Linked DNA regions of Homo sapiens: region 1 is linked to region 2. The links come from fine-mapping of genetic effects on gene expression. A gene starts in region 2. The other region holds a variant in brackets. All regions are shown on one strand. Distances are between the middles of the regions.

The links.
Region 1: its variant is fine-mapped to the expression of MBTPS1 in tibial nerve (GTEx, PIP above 0.99).

What each region holds. Positions count from the first base shown.
Region 1 is chr16:84,055,403-84,059,402 of GRCh38, forward strand. It overlaps MBTPS1 (membrane bound transcription factor peptidase, site 1), which reads right to left. Exons shown (of 23, transcript NM_003791.4): 21 at 3,900-4,000; 22 at 603-733. Among named protein-coding and RNA genes, the nearest start is that of SLC38A8, 15 kb to the left of the region's middle. RefSeq lists enhancers at 1-431, 432-1,024. The variant A/G (reference allele first, on the strand shown) is at 2,097.
Region 2 is chr16:84,114,684-84,118,683 of GRCh38, forward strand. MBTPS1 (membrane bound transcription factor peptidase, site 1) reads right to left here and starts at 2,259. Exons shown (of 23, transcript NM_003791.4): 1 at 2,052-2,259. It overlaps MBTPS1-DT (MBTPS1 divergent transcript), which reads left to right and starts at 2,360. Exons shown (of 1, transcript NR_186375.1): 1 at 2,360-4,000. RefSeq lists silencers at 1,750-2,179, 2,580-2,679 and an enhancer at 2,830-2,989.

The DNA.
Region 1 (4,000 bases), 59 kb before region 2:
CAAAAGAACTGCCCAGGCTCGGCTGGAAAGGCCTGGTACCAATTGCCTTGGGTAGTGGAGAAGAACCTGCCCTAGGCAGTCTATGTAGCCAGTCAGGATCCCTGGAGAGACAGACAGGATGAGACCACCTAAGGGACACACCCCAGCTCAGTCAAGTCCCTCCCAGGGGGGCAGGGCAGAGAACTGAAGGGGCCTTCTGGGCTGAGGGCTGGGAGCCAGGGCGGCTGCTGCCATTGGCTGGGACCCAAACCAGCAGACAGGCATCCTGTAAGGGACGTTAATAGGTGGCTGGCAGAACTTTCATAAAGAGCGTGCAAGTTACTTTGAACATGTTTAAGTAGATCACCCAGCCGTTGTAAAATAAATTCAAATGTGAAAATCTAGGTAGCATTTTCTAAGGGAAACAACAATCTCTTAATCTGTCAGGCCTGCCCTTGCTCATGCTGGTTTGTGCCACAAAAGAAGCCAAGAGCCAAGGCCACCACAGCTCCCAGGAAGGCAGAGACAGGGAGAGTCTGGCCCGCCTCCTGGGGAGGGAGGGAGACTCCTTTGAACAAAATACAGGATGACTGAGCACAATCACAAAGCAGCCGAGAACTCACCTCCAGGAATGTCCCAGGCGCCGCTCTCTCCAGGGGACAAGGGCCTCACTTGAGGGCGATTCGATCGAAAGTTGGGTAACACCACCTTGTCCAGGTCAATGGAGAGTAGCTTCTGATGTTTCCAAAGGTTACTTCAGGAAAATGGATTAAAACAAAACAAAAATAAGCCATTGTACTAGTCTAGGTACTAGTCTAGGAAGTTCAACTGAAACTCAAGACAGAGCAAGTGATCTACGGGGAGATGTGAAATGCCATTTGCGTCCACGGCCACCTAAATGCCACTGACAGCAACTATGGTGGCCGTTTCCACGTCCCGAGGGAGAAAGATCAAAATCAAGTCCCTGTTCATGAGATTCTACTGAGTTTACAATATGACCAGCAGGAGCCTGTTTTTGCATAAAGCTAAACATGACCAAGCGCCTCGGGAGGACACTCCAAGCGAGGCCCTGGAAGGAGCCTGTCAGGGGGAGGAGCTGAAGCCTGCTGAGTGGACCTGAGCCTGGGGCTATCGAGGTCCTCTCCCTAAGGCCTGGAGCAGTCGGAGGCAATGGTGATTCCAGAACCACTGCATATAAGGAAGTGGGCAAACTGGTGCCGGGAACCAGACAGCATCTTTGTCTCTGAAGAAACCACTGTCTCCAGGGAGAATACGAAACATACAAGGAACCAACAGTGGGAGAGAGTCTGAGCAGCAAAACGTGGGGTCCCCATCTGCCTTGCCTGCAGGCGGGGGACGATCAAATGAACGTGTGCGATTCCTGCACTCTGTGGTGCACAGTATCATTATTAACTCTGGGATCTGAAAAACTCGTTCAGGCCAATACAACTTAGACCCGAAGAAGACAGAGAGGTTGATACGCTGGCAACAGCAGCACAGAGCTTGGGAGGACACCGGAGCTAGAGCGAAGAGCGCGATGGGAAAAACACTACTCTGGCTTAAGTGAGGGGGAAGAATACAGTAAGTTTGCAAATTAAAATTTCTCTATTTTTCTGTTATTTATTCATTTGGAAACTGTCAGCCTGTCTCTTTCACTTTGGGCAAGTGAAAGCAAAGACGTCCAGTCCTATCAGCAATTAGGCTGAAAGTCAACGCCAAGCTGGCGGGCAAGGGCTGGTCTGAGTAGAGGTTCCCTAGGCAGGCAAGAGAGAGACTCCCACTCGATACTCCCAGCTCGGCAACTGCCTGAATGCCAATGAGCACTCATTATAACCCGCCCTATTTTATAGGATTTAATTTTACACTTCAGGCTTAATCAGTCTGAAAGTTAAACTGACAGTGTTAAGTTACGGAATCAATGACATTTAGGCTTTATGACTTTGTAGCTGAATATCTATGGGCTATATTTCCATTCTAACAGTGATATCCTGTTCCAGAATCTCATTCTTTGGTGATGGCACTTTCTAGTGGAGCAGTCATGGTAACAGTCCACACCCATTACCATGTGGGTGCTTTACAGCATACTGACGGAAGGACTGAGGAGCCACCGGAGCAGG[A/G]GTTCCTCTCAGGGAGGACGCTGACACTTCCACAGCTGCCCTAGGTATGGGCACCTGATGCCAACGAAGAAGCCCAAAGCGCCTCTCCACTTCACAGATGGAAGCCTGCCCCCAGCACTGGGCTGACAGCATCTGGAGCTGTCTCCTGGTCTCAAATCTCTTTTGGAGACTCAGAATATGCGTCGATCTAGGTCTCTGGGGACCGAGAATAATTTTCAACAAGATATGAAAAGCAAGATAAATGTAAAACCCAGCAGCGTACTGAGAAGAAGGAATTACTGAGTGATTGTGAAAATCAAATTCCAGGAGCTGTCCATTATCAACATGCTGGATGGGCCGGTTCAGTATGTGATGGATTATTTGATGTGAACAGGTAGATAGCCAAGGATAGAAAGGATATTGTTATCTGCTTCAAGTCCTGAACAACACTGTGGAGAATAATTGGGTTTCTGGAAATTCAGCTAACACTGTTCACTGAGTATGAATTGCTGACCATGGCTGGAATATAAATGCTGGTTTGAATGCTAGGCTAATAGAAGGTTATAAATAAATAAGATGCAAAAATGGAAACTTATCAGAAATGTTTAAATGATGAGATGTGAACTGGAATGGAAAAGTACCCAGTGATTAAGGTTCAGGAAGAAAGCTACTGATGAGACAATGTGATGATTCTACCATTTTCCTGTGTTCTATTAAGCATATTCGAAATGAAGACATACGGTCAGTGCGTGGTGTGTTCAGCACTTTCGGTTTATGATGAGGAGTAAAGGCGGAAGGCAGCCTCGCCACCTTCACACGGGCACTCTCCTCTTCGCCTTACAGGACGGAAGGTGGCCTCCGTCCCTGGCCCCATACCATCACTGGAGGAAAAGAAGGCAGGCAGGGGGCCTGTCAAGAGGGTAGCCTCCTGCCTGAGGGGCTGGGGAGAGGGGCCGGGTACCAGGCGGCCAGGGGGCCTCGGAGGGCAAGACTCCTGCTTGATGGGGTGGGAGGTGTGCCTGCCCGGCCACGGACACAGCTCTGACAGCTGTCCCTGGCTTCATCCCCTTTCTCAGGAGAAGCTCCCCCTTTCTTCTTATATTGTCCTGTTTGGGCCAGGGACGTCACAGAAAAAGTAAGGGGGTGGCATCTGGAGAAAAAGGGGACCAGCCATGCCGAGCTGGTCCTAGCCACAGAGGGAAACAGCAGGTCCACCTCAAACACTGGGTACGGAAAGGAAACGATGCAAATGAAGAAGCCGAGTTAGTGAGCTGGAGAAGGGATCCAGGCGGCACTGCAAACAGGAGTGTGGAGACAGCAGCAGAGGTCACAGCCTGCCATCGGAGGCGGGTGCTTTCACCCCCAGTCACAGTCAGCACAGGACGTAATGACACAGAAGCATGCTCTTCTTGGACAGGCTGCAACCGCGGCCCCCGGGGATGACAGAAGAAGGGAACTATCTGTATCTTATCATCAATGTCTGAAACAGGGAACACACTGCAGCCGGCAGCTCTTAACTCCCCAACCACAGGACTTAGAGCTCCAGCTCCCATGAAATCACTCTGTTGGATCCCAGCTTTTTAAAAAAGAATTAACCAAATGTAACAAAATGCTAATTATCCAAAGCACTTTTTATGCAGGATACCACCAAAGAGCCTATTTCCAAAGGCCAATACGAGGTTCACTAAATAACTGTCGCAAATGACAAGCTTGAAGATCTGACAATTCGATAGTGATGTCAGTAAAATTCCATTCTCTCCTATAAGAAAAGCAATGACTCACAAGCCCCGTGGAAAGAGTGGAAGGGCACAGGCGGACACTAACCTGGGCGCCGTCTCGTTTAAAGGCTGTGGCTTGGCCCAAGACAAGCGTGGACAGGCTGGTAGAGGCCGAGGTTTTGGGTCTCCCAAATGGGCCTCCAGAAC
Region 2 (4,000 bases):
GCCGGGTGTGGTGGCGGGCACCTGCAGTCCCGGCTACTCGGGAGGCTGAGGCAGGAGAATCGCTTGAACCCGGGAGGCAGAAGTTGCAGTGAGCCGAGATCCACCACTGCACTCCAGCCTGGGCGACAGAGCGAGACTCTGTCTCAAAAAAATAAAAATAAATAAAGCGTTTCCTCAAGCAGAATTCCGCAGCACTGATGGCAGCAATGTACAGTTCACCTTAGCCTTCAGTCTTCCAAGTTTTTTTTTGTTTTTTGTTTTTTGAGACATAGTCTCACTCTGTCGCCCAGGCTGGAATGCAGCGGCGTGATCTTGGCTCACTACAACCTCTGCCGCCTGGGTTCAAGGGATTCTCCTGCCTCAGCCTCCCGAGTAGCTGGGATTACAGGCGCCTGCCATTGCGCCCAGCTAATTTTTGTATTTTCAGTAGAGACGGGATTTCACCACGTTGGCCAGGCTGGTCTTGAACACCTGACCTTGTGATCCGCCCGCCTCGGCCTCCCAAATTGTGGGATTACAGGCGTGAGCCACCGCGCCCGGCCCAGCCTTCCTAGTTCTTGTTAACCTCCTGACTAGAAGAGCTCCCACTTCTTCCCTAGGTGCTTCAAAGGTTCCGCAAGCTCTGCATTGGAATTTTCCCTTTTTATATAGAAAGGACCAACTCTTGATTATACGGGGTGCCTGGGGAGTGCAGTCGTTTGACACGTGTCTGGGTCAGGTCCCAGCTCCCATTCTCAATCAACAGTTTTGCTGTCATCCGCATCACACATTAGAGCATAAAATAAACTTTTATTTGTCAAAAGTGTTCTGCATAAATGCTTAAACAAAATGTGGTATAGCCATACAACTGAATATTATTTGGTCATAAAAGGAATGAAATCCTGATTCATGCTACAACATGGATGAACTGTGAAAACATGCTAAGTGAAAGAAGCCTGACACAAAAGGCCGCATATCATATGTTTCCATCTGAATATACGAAATAGTCATTAAAGGCAAATCTAGAAAGACAAAGTAGATGAAAGGTTGCCTGTGGCGGGGCCTGGAAATGGGCATTGACTACAACTGGGCATCAGAGGTCTTGGGGTAACGGAAATGTTCTAAAAGTGGATTTGGTAGTGGCTGTGCTGCTGTAAATTTACTAAAAACCACTGAATAGTACACTTAAAACAGGTGGATTTTATGGTATGTAAATTCTACTTCAATGAAGCTCTTACATTAAAAAATAAGTATAAATAATAAAAGCGGATTCTCCAGATTGAAAAAAAAAAAAATGAGAGGAATTACTTCTCTTCTGCAAGCCCTCCTTTTCGTAGACATACAATTGGAGACCTTGACGTTAGGAGGGCTTACCTACACAGTTCAGACTAAAGGATGAGTCTCCAGAATTCAACGCAGGTCGTATTCCACTCCACGTAATTTCGAAGTGTCAATCAGAATCTAATAACTTAATTTGTGTAGACAAATAGGCCAAGATTCTCAGGGGCTCAACCCAATATGAAAGGTAAACATCTTAATAAAAATACTGACGATCCACAACGGTCTTAGGTAGCGCAACCATGCCAAGGCGAGGCAAGATTTTTAAGAAGCTACAGGTTTAAAAGGCAATCTGGTTCTGAGAGTTCGCCGAACAGAATCCCCGCATTTCCAAAAACCAGCAGCGCAATATGCACAGACCGAGATAAGGCAAAGAATCGACGTCTTTTAAACCTGACGCCAGCACTGCCCCGGAAGCGCACCTAGAATTGAGTCTGTCTGGAGGCTCCGGGCCAGAGCAGGGCGTATTGTTTCACTCGGTGAATGCTCATTTCACGTAAAGAAAACCAGGCAACGGAACAAGCTGCCGGAGCGCGCAGACCCCCGCAGGGCCGCGGTACAGGCACGCTGTGTCCAAACAAGCGCCGGAGGCCCCGCGCCCACCTCCCCCGACCCGGCCCGGCCCCCGCAGCCCTCGCCTCGGGGCCTCGGACGCAACCGGCACACCTGAGCGAGCGGGCCGCCGCCGCTAGGCGGAGCGGGTCGGGGAGGCCGCGCGCGGGCGGCTGACGTACCTGCGCCGCCGGGAGCTCAGGGCCGGCGGGCCCGGGATAACGGCGCCTCCGCGGCGAACACGCCTGGGCACTCCATTCGGGGCTGTTTACTCCCAACTCTCGCGAGACTGGGCGACCGGGCCAGCGAGGCCCACAGCTGGGAGCCTCAGCTCCGCCGACCCAGCGTGCCCTGTCTGTCCCGCGCTCCCGGGGCTTGCGTGCGCGCTCTGGACGCCGTGGGCAGCGGGACCACGCCGGGAGGATGGACGAAGGTCTCGCGACATTTGCGGCGGCGGGGGCCGGTGGCAGGGTGGAAGCGGAGGGGCGTGGCCAGCGAGCTGCCAGGCGGCGAGAACGCGCTGGGGGAACCCTTGGTCCGCTCTGCGCGTCGCTCTAGGATCCCCGAAAAGGAGCACGGGCGCGAAAGCGGCCAGGCTGGGCCAGGATCTAGAAAGACTGCCTGGCGCAGGCTCCCTGCCCCCGCGGGCCTGCTGTCATGGACTCGTGGAGAGCTCGCTTCCCGCGCGGACCCTTCCTGCAGGGGTCCACGTCCAGGCACCGGCGGCTCGGACACCCCACCCCCGGCCGGGCACCTGCCCTGGGTGCCCCTTAACCCGGGCGGTAGCTCGTTAAGATGGCGAAGTGTCCGGTCCGGAACACGCGAAACCCCAAATCCCGCCTGCCCGACCTCCTGACCCCCGGCCCCACGGGACGACAGACTGGGCCTCCCGACGCGCAGCGCGCTGCCGGGACACCGGTGCGTGCGAAACGGAGGACCTTTGTAACGCCACGTGTTTGCTCTTTTTGAAAAAACAAGAATAAATGTGTTAAACTGTCTGAAAAGCTTGCCGCCTAAAAGATGTCTGGGTGACTTAGATGCTAGGATCAGTTTGTTTTCAATGTAAATGGACCAGCCCGGACTCCGTACGGCACTAGCAGGGGACTGAAAGCGTCTTCAGGTACTGCTGGTGGGCGGTGATGCGCTACAGGCCGATCAGACAGTTTTGTGTCTTTTGGAACTTGACACTGCACCACGGTAATGCTGAACTGCACCAATATTACAGATCACAGCGCATCATCTTCCTTCAACATGATTTAACACAGTTGACTTAATATGGTGGATAAATGTAGAATCACAAATTACCATACCCCACCTCAGGCTTCTACTTCGTAATTTTGAGCAGGTTGTTTAACCTCTTTGTACCTCAGCTTCTTCATTACAAAAATAGGGGTACTAGCCAGGCGGGGTGGCTCGCGCCTGTAATCCCAGCACTTGGGGAGGCCGAGGCAGCCGGATCACTTGAGGTCAGAAGTTTCAGACCAGCCTGGTCAACATGGGTGAAACGCCGGCTCTACCAAAAATATAAAAACTTAGCTGAGTGTGGTAGCGCATGACTGTAATCCCAGCAACTCAGGAGGCTGAGGCAGAGAATCGCTTGAACCTGGGAGGCGGAGGTTGCAGTGAGCTGAGATCGTACCACTGCACTCCAGCTTGGGCGACAGAGCGAGACTCTGCCTTAAAAATAAATAAATAATTTTTTTAAAAAATAGGGGTACTAATATCTACCTTAAAGGATGAGGGTTAAATTAAGTACACACATAAGCCCTAGCGCAGTGGCTTATGCCTGTAATCTCAACACTTTGGGAGTCTGTGGCGGGAGGATCACTTGAGCCCAGGAGTTTGAGACTAGTCTGGGCAACAGAGACATGTCTCTATAGTTGTGTTTGGTTTTGTTTTTACCAGGTGTGGTGGTGTGCACCTGCAGTCCCAGCTACTAGGGAGGCTGAGGTGGGAGGACTGCCTGAGCCCAGGAGGTCGAGGCTGCAGTGAGCCATGATTGTGCCACTGCACTCCAGCCTGGGCAACACAGCAAGACCTTGTCTCAAAAACAAACAAAAAGCATACTCATAAAGTGCTCGGCTCCTATATGATTCAATATGTGGTGGTGGATTCTTGAATCCTTTCCTGA